Regions from separate parts of the Homo sapiens genome. Here region 2 is linked to region 1. A link means that fine-mapping ties the variant in region 1 to the expression of a gene that starts in the linked region. Tissue or cell type: whole blood. Region 1 holds a variant in brackets; the other region holds the start of a gene. All regions are shown on one strand. Distances are from middle to middle.

Region 1 (2,687 bases):
GGTGGGATATATGTATGGAGTAAATTTCTTTTAAAAATTGAACACACAAAAAAATAGGGAGAATAAGAAATAGATAACATGTACCCATTATCTTGTTTTTCTATTTTGCTTATCTTTTTTTTTCTGAAGAATTTTAAAGCAAATTATAGCACGAGAACATTTCACACCCAAATATTTTTGTATGCATCTCTTAAAAAGAAAGACACGTTGCTGCATGACCGTGCTAACATACCTAACAATAATAACATTAATTCTCCAATATCACCTGAAAACTAATCTATAGTCAAATTTTTCAATAATCCCCAAAATATTATTATTTATAGCTGTTTTATTCAAATCAGGATACATCTAAGGATGCCATGCATTTGCTTGGCAAGTCTCTTAAATCTCTTTTAATCTAGAATGCTGAGTTTGCATGAATGTGGGTAGGAGCCAAATTTTAACCAGCAACAGTTACCATTATAAATTATTCCTCATCCCAGGCAAAGCAGTGCATTCTGAAGGGAAAACTTATTATCTATCCCTCCTTGTAGACGTTTTACACGTTATCCAAACAAGAAAGTGTATTCATGTTGAATATTTAAAAAACAATATTGTAACCACAAAGCAGAAAACTAAACCACCAAACCACAAAGGTAGACAACAATAGAGGAAGAAGAGAACAAATTATCTACAAAGTAACCAGAAAACAATTAGCAAAATGGCAGGAGTAAGTCTTTTACTATCAATAATAACCTTGCTGGTACATGGGTTAAACTGTCCAATCAAAAGATATAGAATGGCTGAGTGGATCAACAACAAGATCCAACTAGATGCTGCCTACAAGAGACCCATTTTTAAACTTTAAGAATAGGCATATACTGAAAGTAAAGGGATAGAAGGAGATATTCCATGAAAACAGACAGTTACCAAAAGAGAGCAGGGATGCCTATACTTATAGCAGATAAAACAGACTTCCAGTAAAAAGCTGTTCCAAGAGACAAAGAAGGTCATGATTTAATGATAAAGAGGTCATCTTATCAAGAGGACATAACAATTGTAAACATATATGCATCCAAAATTGAAGCACTTAAATATGTAAAGCAAATATTAGTGGACATGAAGGAAGAAATATACAGCAATATAACACTAA[T/C]AGGGGACTTCAGTACTCCACTTGCAACAATGGAGAGATCAACCAGACAAAAAATTAACAAGACAACACTAAATTTGAACTATACTTCAGACCATATGGACCTACCAGACCTACATTCATCCAACAACAGCAGAATATACATTCTTCTCTAGCATACATAGAACATTCTCCAGGATAGACCATATGTTAGGCCACAAAATAAACCTTAACAAATTCAAAAAGGTTGAAATCACTTCTAGTATTGTTTCCAACCACAATGGTGTGAAGCTAAAAATCAATAACGGGAGGAATCTTGGAAAATTTACAAATATGTGGAAACTAAACAACATGCTTATGATGAACTAACGGGTCAAAGAAGAAATCAAGAGGGAAATTAAAAAATATTTTGAGATTAATGACAATGGAAACACAATGTATCAAAACCTACAGTATGCAGCAAAGTCAGTTCTAAGAGAGAAGTTTATAGCAATAAATGCCTAGATTAAAAAAGGAAAAAGATCTAAATAAGTAGACTAACACTATGCCCCAGGGAGCTAAAGAAAGAACAAACTAAACCCAAAGTGAGCAAAAGGAAGGAAATAATGAAGATCAGAACAAAAGCAAACAAAATGTAGTATAGTAAAACTATAGAAAATATAAATAAAATCAAAAGTTGGTTCTTTGAAAAAATAAAATCTACAAACTCCTAGCTAGATTCACTAAAAAAAGCAGACTCAAATAAAATCAGAAATGAAAGTGGAGACATTGCAATAGATACCTCAGAAATAAAAATGCTCATAAGGGATTATTATGAACAATTTTATGCCAACAAATTGGAGGACCTAGAAGAAATGGATAACTTTGCTGCTACTCAGATACATTTTATTTCAAAAACATACACTAAGGTGTTGCTGTTGGATCTTTCCAAAAACATATTCACACAGAACTTTCAGTCACACTGAGCCATATTTGAACAATCTTTCAAGGTCAGCTCTGGCATAAGCTAACATTATACCATTTAACTCAGAAATTTCTTTAGTATTTGATTAATGGGTTTATGTTTGATATGTAATGTAATTTTCTAATGCTAAATCAAGTGGTAATTTTGTTAGTCAAGTTGATTTAGTGGCTTGGGAAGAAAGCTTTTAATGTTCCCCTAATTTTTCTTACCTTTGACATGATCCTTCACATGTCTTATTTTGCTTAGTGATTTTTCTTTTTTTTTTTTTTTTTTGAGACAGGGTCTTACTCTACCACCCAGGCTTGAGTGCAGTGGTGCGATCACAGCTCATTGCAGCCTTGACCTCCCAGACTCAAGCTATTCTTCCACCTCAGCCTCCCAAGTAGCTGGTACTACAGGCACATGCCACCAAACTTGGCTAATTTTTGTATTTTTTGTAGAGACAGAGTTTTGCCAAATTCTCAGGCTGGTCTGGAATTTCTGGGCTCAAGTAATCCTGCCTTGGCCTCCCAACATGCTGATATTACAGACATAAGCCACAGTACCTGGCCAGTTTTCTTTTTTAAAAAATCTATTGGTTATTAATTTGAAGCCTTCCTTTTCATAGCTGTGCTC
Region 2 (2,687 bases), 21 kb after region 1:
TGCATGGGACATTTCTCCTTTGTTGTGTCCTGAGTACCTTAAGCCACTCAGATATTGCTCAGGTGGAGTGAGGGGAAAATGTTTTCAGGTTGTATTAGTCAAAACAAAATACCACACACTGGGCGACTTTAAAATCATACATTTATCCCTCACAGTTCTGGAGGCTTGGAAGTCCAAGTTCAAGGTGGCAGCTGGACAGGTTCCTGGTGAGGGCTCTCTTCCTGGTTTGCAGACAGCCACCTTCTCTTCGCATCCTCACTTGGTGGGAAAAGACAGAGGAGAGAAAGAGAGAGAGAGAAAAATGAGATAGAGAGAGAGAGAGAAATGAGATAGAGAGAAATGAGAGAGAGAGAGAGAGAGAGAGAGAGAGGGAGACACAGAGACAATGCTCTCTTTTCTTACCAGATCTATAATGAGGGCCCCACCCCATGACCTCATCTAACCGTAATTACCTACCAAAGGCCCATCTCCACATACCATCACATTAGGGGTTAGGGTTTCAACATAAGCATTTGGAGAGGACATAAACATTCTGTCTACAACATGAGTGGAGATCCATCTCTTCTTTACCTCTGGTAAGGGGACCACACGCTGCAGCCAGCGAGACAGTGGCATGTTCTTGTTACAACTCGATCTAACTCCCCCAGAAGAGGAGGCAGGGAAGGCGGACAAAACTGGGAGAGGGAGAGAGTGTTAGGAAGAGAGTAGGGTGGCCAGAGGCAGCAAATAAAATATAAAATGCTTAATTCTGAATCTCAGATAAACAACCAATAATGTTTTTTAGCATAAGTATGTCCCAAACTAAGCTTGGGACATATTTATGCTACGAAATTATTCGTTGTTTATCTAAAATTCAAACTAGCTGGGCATCCTGTCTTTTAATCTGGCAACCCTAAAAGGCAAGGGCCAAAAATGCCGGAGGCAAGCCAACGGATTCCAGGAGGGACAACTGCTGGACTTTGGACTGATGATGCTCTTTTTATATATTTAACTTTTTAAAAAAGCCTCTTTTCTTTCTTTTTACCAGCTTTTCACTAGCTTTTTAAAAATTGTGGTAAAACATACATAACCTAAAATTCACCGTCTAAACCATTTTTCAGCATACAGTTCAGTGGGATTAAGTAGATTCACACCGTTGTGCCGCCATCACTACCACTCATTTCCAGCACCCTTCCATCACCCCAGCCTGAAACTCTACCCATTGAACACGAGCTGCCCAACTCCGCCTTGCTTCCCCATTCCTGGCGACCACTGCTTCTGTCTCTGTGAATTTTGACTATTCTAGGCACTTCACAAAACTGGACTCATACGATATCTGTAGTTTTGCGTCTGGCTTCTCTATTGAATTCTTAAAGGGGGGTGGGAACTAAGCAGATCACAAGGGAGCTGCCCACAGAGGTAAAGACAAGGTCAGGTAGGCTGAGAGACGCAGGAAAGCGGGTCAAGGCGTAGGGCTGGAGGGCAGGGGCGGGCCCTGGGCGTGGGCTGGGGGTCCTGCCCCGGGGCGCACCCCGGGCGAGGGCTGCCCGGAGGAGCCGAGGTTGGCGGACAGCTTGGCCCTGAGCTTGAGGGGAAGGCAGCGATGGGACAAAGGACGGAGGTCTAGGAAGAGGGTCTGCAGAGCAGAAAGCACGGGTAGGGGCGGCCTGACGCTCGGAAGACAACGGATGGGAGCCGTGTGCACGTCGGGAGCTCGGAGTGAGCGTGAGTTCCGTGCCCAGGCCCGCGACTCGGCCCGACAGGACAGCGCTCCGGGTCGACGGGGTCCTGGAGCCGCGCTCGGGGAGGCGTCTTGGGCTCGCCCCGGAGCTTCCTCCCTGGAGCCGCGCCCTGCACCCGGCCTTGCCCGGCCCTAGCAGGGAAGCCAAGGCTTGTGGGGCGCAGGGACCCGGGCTCTGCGGGGTCCCGGTTCCGCCTCCCCACTCCTGCGTCTTCCCGCCCCTGCCGGGTTCTGGGAAGCCTCGCGCGGCTCTTCCGCAGCTGCTGCCCGCCCGGAGCTCCTGGTCCCTCGTAGGGGACCCCACTTCTCTGACACCGCTTTGGGTTCCCGGGGCCTACAGCGAGGCTTGTAACTCCGGGAGAGACCCTGGAGCGGGGTGTGGGAGAACGGTCTGGAGGAAGGGCTCCGAGCACTTCGAAAGTATAAACCGCGGTCCCAAAGAGGCGTGCTGTGTCTGCATTTTCCTGGGAGTGCACGGTTTACATTCTCGAAAGCAGTGCTGTCGACTAGAAATATTGAGCGATACACATGTACAAGTTTTGTCACTTAAAAAGAATTTGAAAAAACTTCATAGATGCAAAAAAAAAAAAAAACCCACCATTATTAAAGAATACTTAGGTATTTGTGGAATGCATTGAAGAGTTAACAAAATGGATAGGCAGGAAATATCGCAGACCTAGAATGAATTACAGTTACCCACTGTGGAACTGAGGAGCTAGGGTTTCTCATAAAACTCCCTGATAGAAGACGACTTTTGATAAAATTTTTTTTCCGCCAACAAAATCCCCTGTCTTCTCAACTAGTTACTGTCTGTCCACTAAATAAGAGGTGGTCCGTCACTTCTTCAGATGAGCAACTACAGGCTTTTCAAAAGATAATTGCTAATCAACCCCTTTGTGCCTGGGTTTTCTTATTTGTAAAAATAGATACTACTACCTAACTCCAAAGTGTGTGGTGAAGACAAACA

What was found. PIP is the estimated chance that this variant, and not a neighbour inherited with it, causes the effect.
Region 2: WASHC1 starts here. The variant in region 1 is fine-mapped to the expression of WASHC1 in whole blood (TOPMed, PIP above 0.99).

What each region holds. Positions count from the first base shown.
Region 1 is chr9:49,247-51,933 of GRCh38, reverse strand. No RefSeq gene overlaps it. Among named protein-coding and RNA genes, the nearest start is that of FAM138C, 15 kb to the right of the region's middle. The variant T/C (reference allele first, on the strand shown) is at 1,133.
Region 2 is chr9:28,329-31,015 of GRCh38, reverse strand. It overlaps WASHC1 (WASH complex subunit 1), which reads left to right and starts at 1,560. Exons shown (of 11, transcript NM_001378090.1): 1 at 1,560-1,704. It overlaps MIR1302-9HG (MIR1302-9 host gene), which reads right to left and starts at 1,357. Exons shown (of 3, transcript NR_197460.1): 1 at 1,134-1,357; 2 at 571-674; 3 at 125-258. It overlaps MIR1302-9 (microRNA 1302-9), which reads right to left and starts at 872; the gene lies at 735-872.